Linked DNA regions of Homo sapiens: all the other regions are reported to be linked to region 1. Evidence: microRNA targets listed by miRTarBase, many of them from high-throughput screens and not tested one by one. Region 1 holds a microRNA gene; each other region holds the end of a gene's coding sequence.

Region 1 (3,054 bases):
GACTAATATGTATGCAACTGAGCTAAAGTTTTGGCTCCAGCAACCAAGTCCAACACAAAATAGGACATAGCCAGGCCTCCTTAGCCCTCAGGGCCTGAGGGGAAGTGGTGGCTGTAGCCTCTAATAGTCTAGTGGTCGTCATTCCTCCCTGGTGCATAAGGAGCGAAGGAGCAGTTTTTCCCCCAGTGACAACCTGTTGAACACACCTCTGCTTTCCCACACTGCCCTGACACAGTGGGCCCCCTGAGAAGAAGATGGGCATCAAGGCTTCAAACACAGCAGAGGTGTTCTTTGATGGAGTACGGGTGCCATCGGAGAACGTGCTGGGTGAGGTTGGGAGTGGCTTCAAGGTTGCCATGCACATCCTCAACAATGGAAGGTTTGGCATGGCTGCGGCCCTGGCAGGTACCATGAGAGGCATCATTGCTAAGGCGGTGAGTACCCTGCCCGAGTCCCTAGGTAACCCAAACAGAAGTCTCACTGTCCCCCTTGCCATGTGTCCCTGATCACTTGCAGGCACTCCCTACACTAGAAACTCCTCCCCTACCAGCAGCCCGACTTGCTAGCTTAGGTCTCCATCCAGCGTAGACTGAACTCTGGTTGTATGCAAAACCCATCCCTCTGGCGCAAGCCCAGCCCCTCTCCTAGGGAGACTGCAGAACCACACTGAACCACAGCGGGATGTGTGGACCCTCTTCCAGGTAGATCATGCCACTAATCGTACCCAGTTTGGGGAGAAAATTCACAACTTTGGGCTGATCCAGGAGAAGCTGGCACGGATGGTTATGCTGCAGTATGTAACTGAGGTGAGGGCCTCCCAAGCCCCTCTCCCTGGAGCCCTGGGGCTTTCTTCCCAGTCGGGTCAGACTACAACCCCCAGCAGCACCTGGGGCAGTGGGTCTCCAGCTTTACACCAATGCCCTAGGGGATGCGGGGAGGCATAGTCAGCTCAGCTTCTGCGAAGAGAGACAGCAATGATGTTCTGCTCAGGTGCCTGCCAGCAGTACCAGAAGTTAATTCTACCTCATCCCTTACATCCACCCCTTTTAAGAAAACAAATACCTGGAAGCACCTGATGAACTGACCCAGAACAAGTATCTGCCTGACCTGACAAGCTAGGTCAGCCCTTATCTTGGAGATCTGGGTGATGAGGCCAAGTCTGACAAAGCCCTTTGCAATTTTCCTTCCCATGTCCCAACTATGCAACCTCAGTCCATGGCTTACATGGTGAGTGCTAACATGGACCAGGGAGCCACGGACTTCCAGATAGAGGCCGCCATCAGCAAAATCTTTGGCTCGGTGAGGTCCCAGGCATGCTGGGAGGGAGTCCAGTTTGGGTGCTCAGCTCCCAAAACCAGTCTCATCTGTTCTTTGTCCCTAGGAGGCAGCCTGGAAGGTGACAGATGAATGCATCCAAATCATGGGGGGTATGGGCTTCATGAAGGTACAGGACGGTCTTCTGCAGAGCCTCGGCTGGGCCAGGGGTGGGTAGGCACATCTCAGCACGGGCATATAATTTGTGTGGCCCTGTGCTAGGAACCTGGAGTAGAGCGTGTGCTCCGAGATCTTCGCATCTTCCGGATCTTTGAGGGGACAAATGACATTCTTCGGCTGTTTGTGGCTCTGCAGGGCTGTATGGTAAGACAGAGAATTGGGTGGGGGTAGAGGTGGGGAGGACAGTGAGTCCTGACTGCTGGACCCTCTTCCCCCATAGGACAAAGGAAAGGAGCTCTCTGGGCTTGGCAGTGCTCTAAAGAATCCCTTTGGGAATGCTGGCCTCCTGCTAGGAGAGGCAGGCAAACAGCTGAGGCGGTAGGCTTAGGGCCAGAGCCAGGGGAGGGCAGGGTGGTGTATGGCAACTAACCAGTCATTCTCCCTCTTCCTCTCAGGCGGGCAGGGCTGGGCAGCGGCCTGAGTCTCAGCGGACTTGTCCACCCGGAGTTGAGTCGGAGTGGCGAGCTGGTAAGTGGCCAGGGGTCCAGGAGAGCCTGCATCAGGGACTGCAGCCGATGGCCCCTCTGAGCCCCGCACTGTCCCCATCTCTTAAGGCAGTACGGGCTCTGGAGCAGTTTGCCACTGTGGTGGAGGCCAAGCTGATAAAACACAAGAAGGGGATTGTCAGTAAGTGAGCTCTACACCATTCCGCCCCTCCCTTTCCTCTCCTTGAGACTAATGCCCCCACCCCCACCCCCACCCCACCTACCGGACAGATGAACAGTTTCTGCTGCAGCGGCTGGCAGACGGGGCCATCGACCTCTATGCCATGGTGGTGGTTCTCTCGAGGTGAGGAGGCAGGCAGGGAATGCCTGAGCCGCAGGGGGCCTGGGCCTGGATCCCAGCCGGCCCAGATTTATTTTCATCTCCTGCTTCCTGCCAGGGCCTCAAGATCCCTGAGTGAGGGCCACCCCACGGCCCAGCATGAGAAAATGCTCTGTGACACCTGGTGTATCGAGGTGAGACTCGGGGCTGCCAAGCTCAGGTGAGGGCTGGAGGTGCAGGCCCAACCCCTCCTTCCCTCTCCCCAGGCTGCAGCTCGGATCCGAGAGGGCATGGCCGCCCTGCAGTCTGACCCCTGGCAGCAAGAGCTCTACCGCAACTTCAAAAGCATCTCCAAGGCCTTGGTGGAGCGGGGTGGTGTGGTCACCAGCAACCCACTTGGCTTCTGAATACTCCCGGCCAGGGCCTGTCCCAGTTATGTGCCTTCCCTCAAGCCAAAGCCGAAGCCCCTTTCCTTAAGGCCCTGGTTTGTCCCGAAGGGGCCTAGTGTTCCCAGCACTGTGCCTGCTCTCAAGAGCACTTACTGCCTCGCAAATAATAAAAATTTCTAGCCAGTCATGCTTTGCTCCTGTGTGACGGTTCTTTCCCCCTGCTGCCTGCCTCCCTCCCAAAGAAAGGAGCCAGAGGCGTGGGGAGTTTGCCTCTATTGCTTTATTTGGTGTTTTATACAAGTGACTAAAATAAATAGAGTAACAAAGGCAGCTACATGGCCCAAATCTCCCAGCTTCCTCAGGCTGCTGTCTAGGATGCCTAACCCCGGGGTACCGCTGACCACCC
Region 2 (3,704 bases), not on the chromosome of region 1:
GAGAAGGCAGAGAAGATATGTCATGCTTACACATGGGATTGTCTCTGTTTTGGTTACCTCCTTTAGGGTTGGATGAGTGAATGCAGGAATCAATGAATGGGTGGATAATGGAATCCATGTATCCATCAGCCAGTAGTTTCCTGCAGCAGAACCACCCTGAGCACTTGTTAAAACACAGCTTATTGGCTGGACAGAGGTTCACACCTGTAATCCCAGCACTTTGAGAGGCCAAGGCAGGAGGATCTCTTGAGCCTAGGAGTTCGAGACCAGCCTAGGCAACATAGTGAGATCCCGTCTCTATAAAAATCATTTTAAAAAATAACTGGGCTTGGTGGCACTCGCCTGTAGTCCCAGCTACTCGAGAGGCTGAGGTGGGAGTATCACTTGAGCCTGGAATTCAAGGCTGCAGTGAGCTGAGATCGCACCACCGCACTCCAGCCTGGGCAAGAGCGAGACCCTGTCTCAGAAAAACACAAAAAACAAAACACAACTTGTTGGGCTCCACACCCAGTTTCTGATTCAGTCCTTGGGGGAAAGGGACGAGGCGGGGGGCGGGGGGGCAAAAAGAATCTGCATATCTCACAAGGTGGAGGTTCATGCTGTTACTGATCAGGTACCACACCCAGAGAACCACTGGCACAAGCCATCGGATACTTAGACCACGATAACTGTGGCTGCAAATTTTCTGCCTGATCCTGCCAAATAGCTCACACACGCAGTTGAAAATAAATCCTCTGACTCAGTGTTTGGGGGGTGTTGTGGGTGGACTGCCCACTCGACCTCCCATCACTTTCCTGGGTAGTAGTGTTAGATGTGAGTGTTGGAGCACGAATGGTGGTGGGTGTGCACGCGTGTGCACACCAGCTGTACTGCTGTCCCTTTGCACACCTCTAGTGCTGACCGCTGACCTTCTCCAGGTTCTCTCTCCTTTGCTCCCCAGAGCCCTTCTGAGTCTTCTTAGCCAGCGAAGAAGAGTAAGTGAACATCTAAGATCACAAAGAACCCTCTATTGTCTCCTGGGATTTGGTGCCATCTAGTGGCTAACTTGAGAATCTTTGCTCAGACTTAGAGAAACTTCTGGAAAATTAACTAAGTAGCCTGGGAAGGCAAAAACACCTACTTGTTTACCCTCTGAGAAAGGCTTCCTGAAGGGCAAGGACTGGCTCAACATGATAGGAGTCAAAATGGATTTCTTGCTCTCCTGAAAGCTGTGATAAAAATTAGAAGTCATCAAAGAATCTCAATCACGTCTCACTGCATCTTCAGCTTGAATGATTTTCTAGAATTGATTTTCATTTCCTGAATGAAACGGAGTCAGGTAATACCAACTTGGTATTTGCCTCCCATCTCATTTCTCTGGGCCCCAAGCCCTGAACAGCCCAAGTATAGCAATCCAGTCCCCAAGGGGTCAGTGAAACTACAGAGATCTGTAGTTCACGGTACAGTTGGTACTGATAAGAGGGACATCAGGGCCTTAAAGTTATTGAGGGGTGGAATTGTTAATGACCACTGTGATCCAGACAGAAATCTAAGATATCAGCACACAATGCCACAGCAGCTCAAAATCCTCATTAAGAGGTGCGAGGTATTGTAAATATGTGGTTTGGACTTTAACAGAAAATTTAAACTACTTGTTATGGGAACAAAGGGGAGGCAATCAGGGATCATAAAGGAAGCTGCTCCTTAAAGTTGCTGTTTGGGGAACTGTGATGGGTCTCAAAACGTGGTCTTGAGACCAGCAGCATCAGCACATTCTCAAGCAACATCCCAAAACTACTGAATTGGAAACTCTAGGGATGGGGCCTAGAAATGAATGTTTAAACAACCCCTGCAGATGATTCTGATGCACATGAATGTTTGAGAACCGCTGGTTTAAGATAAGCTTTAGATGCCCTAAAATACACCTGAGAGTGTTTATAGAGAATCTACTAATGAATTCATGGAGGAGACAATTTATTTCCATAACATAAACCTGCTTCTTTTTTATGTTTTGTTTTTAACACATAATTGTAAGCCTACTTCTTTTTAAACATACAAACGTGCCTTCTAGTTTGTGGTGAAATAAAAAGGATTATTTATTTGCTTTCACTTCTTTGGATTTTAGAGAATACTATCTTGGTAAGTACAGTCTCCAAAAGTAGCTCAATAGTCCTGTAGACATGGTAAGTTTTTTTTAAAAAAGAATGTACAACTTTAATATTAATCAAAAAAATACAAATTAAAATAGCAATGAGATATCATTTCTCAACTAAAAAACTGGCAAAGTTCAAAAAGAATAATGTGCATCAATAAGGAGGGTATAAGGGGGAAAATAAAACACACACTCCAAGTAGAAAGATAAAGTACCAGAATCTTTCTGGTAACACAAATCAGAAGCCTTAAAAATGAGTATATCTTTGACTCAGCAATCCCATTTCTAGGGATATATCTTAGAAATAATTAATGATATATGCAACAATGAACATATAAAGATGCTAAATATCATTTATAATTTTAAAATTAAAAATCTTAACTTTGAGGGAATTGTAAAGTCAATCAGTGTGCCCATATGACAGAACATAATAAAAATCAATCAGTTCAAGATTTTTTCCAGTTTTTAAAAGGAAGATTTATTTAACAAGTTTCACTTAGTACAATACATCTAAATGGAAATCACAATACAAGGAAAGATTTAAACCAAAGCCTCAGATTTTCATACAAACGACACGACCAAACTTCTAAAGTATTGGTATTACATCTTAAAATTGTCCCGTATCCTTAAAAAAAAAAAAAGTGTACACTCACGTGCCTTACAGGATATTAAACCAAAAAGCTAGAATTAACAAACATGCCAAATGTTTTCACTTTGAATCGTAGACACAGCTCCTATATTTGAGTTTTACAGAAAGGCATGTTTCTCAACATGCATCCGAAGTTTTCAATGTATTTGTGGTATAAGAGCAACATTTAACATAAGTGAAACTGCATTAACCTAAATACGCTTACTGCTTAGGTACACTCCTACAACATAACTAACTTGAGGAAAGCTAAAAATTGTTTTAACAGTTATGGTCAATACTGAACTTTGTTATTATGTCCTAGATGAATGTTTCAGTGTTCAAAATTACTGAGCTTGAAGTTTTAAAATAATCTCAACTTCCACTTTACAGTAAGCATGAATCACAAGCCTGTAATGCAAAACTGTTAAACTTAACTCGTTTTCTTAAAAAAGGAGAAAGAAAGATAAAGAAAGAGAAGCTGACCAAGAGTGATCAGAATCAATTATATTTCCCATTTACCAATCATACTGGATATACTAAACATCCCTCCCATTCTATTCAACTCCCACAAATGTACAGCTTTTATATCTGGAGTAGCTATTTAGTGCTCCTTCTCTACCTAAGCAAGGTTTGACTGATAGTCACTGGAGTTTTCCTGCAGAACTTGGTCATATCCACTCATACTGCTCTGACCACCATAACCACCTCCATAACCACCACTCAGCTGCTGGCTAGCAGGACCTCCATAACTAGACTGGTTGGATAAGCCCATCCCTCCCATCATTTGGCTACCATAAGCGCCACCACTTGCCCCTGCTGTAGAATTCAAAAAAAGTTCTACATAGCTGTGATCGTAAGCACCCCCACTTGTTCCTGCAGTAGAATTTAAGAAGAGCTCCACATATCTGTGTTGCATATTAGCTTTGTCTTTTGCCATAGCTGCCA
Region 3 (3,704 bases), not on the chromosome of region 1:
TGAGCAGGGCCTGGAGGAGGCCTCAGGACTGGGCATCTGGGGTGGAACATCCACAGCGAGGGTGGGTGTAGGGAAGGCGCTGGCACCGTGGGATGAGGTCGTGCATTTTACTCATAACCGAGGGCTGGCTGCACACAGCAGGGGCTCGAGGCTTACTGATGGGCCCACGAATGTGTCTCGCGAGCCTGTGAAGAAGCAGCAGGCAGGTCTGGCCAGCGCGGGAGGGCTGGCGCCCATCGGGGCTGCTCCCTTTCAGGTCTGCCTGAAGTGCCGCGGGGTGAAGGAGACCAGCATGCCTGTGTACTGCAGCTGCGCGGGAGACTTCGCCCTCACCATCCACACCCAGGTGGGCTCTCCCTCATCTGCCTCGGCTCAGCCTGGCCTCCTTGGCCTCCTCTCTGAGTGGACTGGGGTCTCACTGTGCCTGTTTATTCCTGCAGGTCTTCATGGAACAGATCGGAATATTCCGGAACATTGCCCAGCACTACGGCATGTCGTACCTCCTGGAGACCCTGGAGTGGCTGCTGCAGAAGAACCCACAGCTGGGCCATTAGCCAGCCCCGGGCCCCGGGTGCCTCTGCGTCCGTGCCAGGCCTCCTGATGCCAAGGCCACATCCCCGTGCTTCCAGTGACCAGACCACTGACCACCCTGACTGTCCAAACCTGTGACCCCAGGCCAGGGAACGGGGAGGAAACCAAAGAAAACCATTTTCAGGGAGCTCAGACGTCACAGGAGGGAGCGGGAGCAGGATGTGGCCCTGGCCTCGCCAGAGCACCTGAAGAAGCAGGCCGTGAGCGAGGCTGCGAGTGCCCTGGGCGCCGTTTCTCACGCAGTGAATGCTTTTCCAGGCCTCTGTTGCTTCCTGCACCACACCTGGTGGGGTGGGAGCGTCCTCTAGGTGCCCCTAGTTCTTTGTCCTGCCTCCCAGAGGGAGGAAAAGCCCCTGGGGGCTTCTGGCTCCCTGAGATTGGGCTCTGAGACGAGACGGGTTCCCAAGGCCCTGGTGGGGCTGGAGTCTCACCTGTTTGCATGGAGAAATGGGCTGGCCCCACAGCCTCACAGGAGCAGTTTGTGGGCTGGTTTCCCCAGGAATCCAGACCCTAACCCGTGAGAATCTGGATTTTGGCTTGTGAGCCCTGCTTATTTGGAGCCGGGTCTAGAGGGAACCCTCTATCAGCCTCAGGAAAACAAGACCTCTGTGCACCTCACTTTTGGCTCACTGCAGCCCTTGTCCTTCACCTCCACACAGGACCAGCTGGAAGCAGAAAGAAGAAAGGCCAATTTCACAGGGCACCAAACAAGTATGAAATGTAAATCAGAAATGCAGACACCCCAGACGAGAGCCTCACAGGAGGGAGGGGGCCCCACAGGCTCCCCAGGAGGCTCGTGTCTTTGGCCCAGAGCCAGCCTTAGTTTGTCCCTGCCATCTACTGTCTGAGGCCATCGCTGCTACACTTTGTTTTTATTTGTATTTCATACTGAAGTTTCTCTAGGTTGTCACTGTGTATTTGTGCAGAGCGCCTCAGATCGGGGACTGGGTACCACTGGGCACGTGTTTGGCCCCTGGATGCTGCTGGGGCCGCCTGCCTGGAGAAACCTGATGCCTGCTCAGATGGAGGAGTGCTGAGGCCTCCAGAGTGGAGATCAAATCAAATTAGGGCAAGCAGGGGAGGAGGGAGGCTGGCTGACTAGGCTTCATTCCTGGAAGCGAATCTGGAGAACCCTCAGGAATGAGGAGTGATGGGGCCAGGGGACAGCCGCTCGTCCCCCAGGAAGGCCACCTAGCAGGACCAGGGGTCGCCCGGTGCAGCCGTGGGCGCCAGTCAGCCTGGGTTCACTGTGAGGCTAGCTGCGGGCATTTGAGTAGTGGTGGAGGGGTCAGAAACGGGAAGCTCTGGCCCTGGTTCCCAAGCAGCGGCTCAACCAGAAGAGCCAGTTTCTCCAAAAATGAGCTGGATATTTGTGAGCCACACAGCATGTGCAGGCCGTGGGGTGACCTGAGGCCGATGCCCGAGGCTGGGAGGCCACAGTCAAGGGAAATGGGGCCCACGGAAGACATGTTCTCGCCACCTGAACACAGCGCTGGGATGAGGACTCTGGAGTTGTGCTGAGACCTCCAAACTCAGGCTTTAGGGTCAGACCAGGGTCGTCTTACCCGCCCTTCTCCGCTCTTTGACCTTTGGGCGTGGTGTTGCTCTCCTGAGACTGGGTTTCCCTTCAGAGGCAGGATGTCATCTGTCACTGGCACAGGTGACATCATGACGCTGTTCTGGGCTCCTCCCCCCACCCAGTGGGCACCAGTCTAACCACTGCAGCATCTGAGGATGCAGTAACCAGATTACCCCCAGGCCCTGATGCAGTTAGTGCTGGCTCCCGGGCTGGTGTCCTTCCACCCCCGCCTGGCCTGACTTCCCATCTCGGCATTCCTGCCCCCTCCCATGGAGTAGGAATGAACACTGGTCTGAGCACTGCTGTAGTCTGAGCTTTCGTTTTCCTTGTGTGCAGCTGTCCCGGCCTCCCTCCTATTTCTCTCTTCCTGAGTCATGCTGTCCTCCCACATTTTGAGATGAGCCAGCTTTGGTTTGGAGTCTGGGGTGGCCCTGTCAGAAGCAAGTGCACTGAGGAGGTGGCCTGGGTCCCAGTGCACTCCCAGCCTGGGCAGACCTGACCGTGGCCTGGCTGGCTGTGGGGACCATGTGTCATGGGGCAGGCAGACATGTGCCCTGCACACCTCGCAGGCTGCTTAGAGGGGAGATGACCCAGACAGAGGTCACCGTGCAGCCCAGCTCCAGGCCGACAGGGCCTGACATCCCATATTGACAGGCTCACGATGCTCCTCCCCAAGGAACGAGGCCAGAAGGTTCTGCTCACAGGTTTATTGGACTGAGTATGTTGTGACTTCTAAGGGAAGAGTCTGGGCAGATTCAAGGTTACAACGCCTGTGGGGTGGGGTGGGGTGGGGTTCCCAGGGCCCAAGACCGGGAGCAGAGCCCCTCAGAGCTCAGCTGGCTTGGGTTCCAGGTGGCTGTGAGAGGTGATGGGAAGTGAGCAGCCCTGTAGGGACCAGCTGGGGAGGAGGTGTCAGGGGCTGTATGCCAGGGTGGGGCACAAGCCTGGGGCCAGAGCGTGCCCCCAGCCCTTGCACAGGGATCCTGTGGTGCCCCGTTTCGTGGAGATGCTCCGCTACTGAGGTGCCCACGTCCACGTGCAGGTCCCTAGCTGGGGACTCTCTGGCCCCACCAGGCCGGGTCTGCAGTCCAGTGAGATGGAAAGGAGCTCAGAGTTGAGCCAAACCTTTGGGGTCTGTGGGTGTGGAGGCTTGGGCAGGCTCGGAGGCAGGAGTGTCCACCATCTGCTCAGAAGGGGCAGAGATGGGGCAAGGCCGCAGGGGCGGGAAGGCTGGGCCACACTCTGCCCCTTGTTGGCCCTCCTGGCCTGATGGAGGGCTGGGGTGCTGGTCCTCGGAGCGGTGGCCGGGTTCGGGAGGGGCCTGGCCCAATACACGGGCAAGGGTCACAGGCCAGCTACCTGAGGGGTGGCTCGGCGTACACACCTTGTCAAATTTCTTATGGCTGTAGACCTTGTTTTTGTTCATGAATGTTAGCAAGATCCAGTCGCACAGGAAGGAGCCCTGGGGCCAGCAGAGACCGGTGTGTAAGGGCCTGGTGGACCCCCCGCACCCGCTGGGACCCCAGAGAGGGTT
Region 4 (3,704 bases), not on the chromosome of region 1:
GCCCCGGCCCGACCCACAACAGCCCCGAGCTAGGCCGTCCACCGGCTGCTGGCGTCCTGGCCCCAGATATGTCCGACAAGGACAAGTGTTCAGCCATCTTCCGCTCGGACAGCTTGGGGACCCAGGGCCGGCTGAGCCGCACGCTGCCAGCCAGCGCGGAGGAGCGCGATCGGCTGCTGCGCCGCATGGAGAGCATGCGCAAGGAGAAGCGCGTGTACAGCCGCTTCGAGGTCTTCTGCAAGAAAGAGGAGGCCAGCAGCCCTGGGGCAGGGGAAGGCCCCGCGGAGGAGGGCACCAGGGACAGCAAGGTGGGCAAGTTCGTGCCCAAGATCCTGGGCACGTTCAAAAGCAAGAAGTGAGTCTTCTGGCCTGGCAACCCAGGCCAGGGTGCCCGCATCGCTGCCCCGGTCATCCAGAAGCCCCGCGGAACAGAGAGCCCTGCTCATCTGCTTGAGCAGCGGCTGTCAGGCCACGGCCGCTTGGGGCTTGGCTGAGTGCGCCAGACCTCGGCTCCACTGGAGGCTCACCTGGCAGCTGCCGTCTCTGCCCCCTGGCCTCCCCAACGCTGGGGCTGCACCCCTCGCCACCAGTGCCTTTCTCCCCTCAGCACCTTCATCTCTGCACCGTCAGCCTTGCGTGGCGCAGCGTCTGGCTCCGCCATCTCTTTGTGCCTCAGTCCCCCCCGCCCCCTTTATTTTTTTGAGACCTAGGGCTGGAGTGCAGTTGAGCGGTCTGGGCTCACTGCAACCTCTGCCTCCCGGGTTCCAGCGATTCTCCTGCCTCAGCCTCCTGAGTAGCTGGGATTACAGATGTATGCTACCACGCCCAGGTAGTTTTTGTATTTTTAGTAGAGACAGGGTTTCACTATGTTGGCCAGGCTGGTCTCCAACTCCTGGCCTCAAATGATCAGCCCGCTTCAGCCTCCCAAAGTGGGGGGATTACAGGCGTGAGCCTTGCACCCCGCTAAGTCCCCTATCCTCTTGCAAGGGTCTCGCCTCTGTGCCTCAATTCCTCATTCTCTGGGCCCTTCTCCTCCTCAGGGCCTCCTGTTCTCAGGGCCTCCCCCCTCCCCGCTCCCTCCCTCTCTCAAGGTCTCCTCCTTCCCTCCCCCCCCCCCCCCCCCGTCTCCCCCCTCCCCCGCCTGGGCTTCACTTCCTTTCCTACTTGGATTCTCCTGCTCGCTGCCTCCCAGCATCTTTTTTGGAGGCCCGTCTCTTGCTGTGGGGAAGACTGGGCTGGCTGCGGGCAGTTTGCAAGGGGTGGGTGGGGCAGGGGGGGGGGAGCTGGACCAGAAGATGCCCCTTGGAGTGGCAAGGAAGCTGGACAGGGCAGGCCTCTGGGGACGGGACACAGGGAAGCCCGAAGGGGCGCCTTGGCCAGGTCTGCCATCTCCTCCAGCGAGGCTCTGGCCAGCACTGGGTGAGAGTGGGGAGGGGGCATTGGCCTTTGCAGCACAGTAAAACATGGTCCAGACAACCTGTGGCCCCGGCCTCATGAGCACCCCCTGCACAGGCCCGGCCCAAGCCAGGCGCTAGAAGGGCTGGTTGTGGAGTGCTTATCCTTGACAGGTATGGGGCCAGGTGAGGGCAGGGGACAAGGTGCAGCTGAGGCCGAGCCCAACTAGGTCCTGGGCACCCCTGCAGGTGGGAGTGGTCCTTGTCCTCCTGGTATCCAGCAGACACCCCCCTCTCCCCACCAGCCCCATTCTCAGGTCCTTTCCTCTTTGTCACCAACACCAAGAATCTGTCCAGGGTTCTTGGCTTATCTTTTATCTCTTTTCACTCCTAGAGAGGAATTGCAATTGACTCAGAATGACACATTTTGGCACCACGTGTGTAGAAAGCCCCCACTGTTAGATGATAGCCTCGTGAAATTCATGTTTCTGTATTCTCCTATTTCTTTTCAAAAACTAATTTTTTTTTTAGTGTAATAAATCCTAAGAGGGAACTGATTTAAGAAACAAGGCCGCCAAACAAAGGCAGCAGTTCCGACTCCAGCAGCTGGGAAAGGAAGGAAAGTGACCCCACTTTCACTCCTGCACAGCCCACTGGTTACCAAAACCACCGTGCAAGTCGGGATGACAGCAGGGACTTCTGGCCAGGTGGGAAAGGTGCCTGGAAGCGGGATGCGCCTGTGCGTCTCTTGGCCATGATGTTCTTGTGGGCATGTTATTCTTGGTGCTGCCTGGGGTGTTGCTGAGCGGACAGGCTCTCCAGCTGGAGTCCATGGAGAGGCCAGAGGCTGGCGGCCCTGCCTGGGCCTTCGGAGCCTCCTGCCTGCACCCTCCACCTCTTCTAAACCATGATGTGGCACATTTTGGTGTTAATAAAACACAACACACAAAGTATTCTAGCATGTTCCCCAGTGTGTATAATCGCCCAGTTACATCCTGCAGCCTTTAACCACGTGGCCTCCCAGATTTCCCCTGTGGACCCACCACCCACCCCTGTGGGGGGCACTAAAGACCCCCCAGCTCCACTTCCAAGGCCCACCTTGGCCTCCCCAACTTCACGCTGCTCTCCTGTCCCTGTCCCCGATGCCCCCTGTGCAGGCACACTCCTGGGTGCCCACCTGCGATTCCCCACTCAGCAGCCCCACCACACACTGCCCAGCCTGAGGCCAAGCCTCCAACCCTGCAGCCCCGTGGCCTCTCTGCAGCTTCCTCTCCCACAGCCTCTCTGTCCTGCTTGTTCAGCACCCTGGGCCTGCGCCTTGGGCTTTTGAAGCTCAACAAGCACCTCCCTCGGCAGCCCCCTCAGGAAACAGCCCCTGGGCTGGGTCTCTGACTGGCTCACCGCTTCCTCGGGCCCTCCCGATCCCTCCTCCGCCTCCTCCAACCTTCTCCCAAACCCAGCCTCCCTTTCTGAGTCTCTTGCAGGTGCCTGGTCCAGCACCAGGGCAGCGCCAGCTCTCACCTTCTGCTCAGCTCCCCCACCCACATCTTGTCCTTCCCCGCCCTCCCCCATGGTGGCAATGGCTTCCACAACCCAGCAGCGCCCCTCTCCTGGCAGCCCAACACCGACCACAGCACAGGCCGCACCCTTCAAACTGTGAGCTCCTCCGGCCTATGAGCTTCCCAGACTGTGAGCCTGGCAGCCCAACTCCGCCACCGACAGCACAGGCCGCGCCCTTTAGACTGTGAGCTCCTCCAGCCTGTGAGCTTTCCAGCTGCCTCCTTGTGTTCCAACCCCAACCCATGGGCAGGTGCAGCTGAGGACACCTGGCACCCTAGGACACAGGTCTGTGCCCACAGGGCCCCTTTGATCTTTGCAGCCCTGCACAGCCCTGGCCTGAACTCACACCAGGGACCTTGCCTGGGGGTGACAAGAGGAGGTAACCCTGACCTCGCGAGATGTCTGTCTCCCACCCTCACCTACGGAGACCTGAAGACAGATCAGGTGCAGTGGCCATACTAGGGGGCGCAGGCTGCAGTCCCTGACAGCAGGGGGAGGGGTGTCCCCCTTCTCTCTCCCCTTCTCTCCTCTGGCTCAGAGTCACAAACATGGCCAGGGGGTGACCCTACATCCCTACCCCACAGGACCACCCTGGGGGGCAGCCTGGACCCTGAAGCCACAGCAGGTAAGGAAATGATGGACAAAGAACAAGAAGCTGCCCCAGGCAAACCTGGAGGGAAAAGCCCAGTGCTGGATGTGCAGTGGGCAGGGCCTCTAGGGGGCGGCACTGGGCTCTGGGGTGGAGGTTTC

The links. Region 1 holds the annotated microRNA hsa-miR-324-5p (CGCAUCCCCUAGGGCAUUGGUG, at 912-933, opposite strand). A microRNA usually pairs through its seed, bases 2 to 8, with sites in the 3' UTR of a target mRNA and lowers its output. Matches are read on the target gene's strand: a 7mer-m8 pairs with bases 2 to 8, a 7mer-A1 pairs with bases 2 to 7 and ends in A, and an 8mer does both.
Region 2: miRTarBase lists HNRNPH2 as a target of hsa-miR-324-5p. Seed matches in the 3' UTR shown: 7mer-A1 at 2,904-2,910.
Region 3: miRTarBase lists POLE as a target of hsa-miR-324-5p. The part of its 3' UTR that is shown has no 7-base or 8-base seed match.
Region 4: the mRNA of FAM83H is a reported target of hsa-miR-324-5p. Seed matches in the 3' UTR shown: 7mer-m8 at 2,123-2,129.

The regions. Positions count from the first base shown.
Region 1 is chr17:7,222,432-7,225,485 of GRCh38, forward strand. It overlaps MIR324 (microRNA 324), which reads right to left and starts at 948; the gene lies at 866-948. ACADVL (acyl-CoA dehydrogenase very long chain) reads left to right here. Exons shown (of 20, transcript NM_000018.4): 10 at 236-434; 11 at 702-806; 12 at 1,213-1,299; 13 at 1,382-1,444; 14 at 1,537-1,638; 15 at 1,715-1,812; 16 at 1,890-1,962; 17 at 2,049-2,121; 18 at 2,211-2,283; 19 at 2,378-2,453; 20 at 2,526-2,835. The coding sequence ends at 2,666. DVL2 (dishevelled segment polarity protein 2) reads right to left here. Exons shown (of 15, transcript NM_004422.3): 15 at 2,911-3,054. RefSeq lists an enhancer at 2,525-3,024.
Region 2 is chrX:101,413,013-101,416,716 of GRCh38, reverse strand. It overlaps HNRNPH2 (heterogeneous nuclear ribonucleoprotein H2), which reads right to left. Exons shown (of 2, transcript NM_019597.5): 2 at 2,584-3,704. The coding sequence ends at 3,379. RPL36A-HNRNPH2 (RPL36A-HNRNPH2 readthrough) reads right to left here. Exons shown (of 4, transcript NM_001199974.2): 4 at 2,584-3,704. Among named protein-coding and RNA genes, the nearest start is that of HNRNPH2, 6.6 kb to the right of the region's middle.
Region 3 is chr12:132,621,547-132,625,250 of GRCh38, reverse strand. POLE (DNA polymerase epsilon, catalytic subunit) reads left to right here. Exons shown (of 49, transcript NM_006231.4): 48 at 257-346; 49 at 441-1,489. The coding sequence ends at 554. It overlaps P2RX2 (purinergic receptor P2X 2), which reads right to left. Exons shown (of 11, transcript NM_170682.4): 11 at 2,863-3,632. The coding sequence ends at 3,279. Among named protein-coding and RNA genes, the nearest start is that of P2RX2, 4.6 kb to the right of the region's middle.
Region 4 is chr8:143,722,576-143,726,279 of GRCh38, reverse strand. FAM83H (family with sequence similarity 83 member H) reads left to right here. Exons shown (of 5, transcript NM_198488.5): 5 at 1-2,347. The coding sequence ends at 359. Among named protein-coding and RNA genes, the nearest start is that of MAPK15, 8.1 kb to the right of the region's middle. RefSeq lists an enhancer at 2,656-3,157.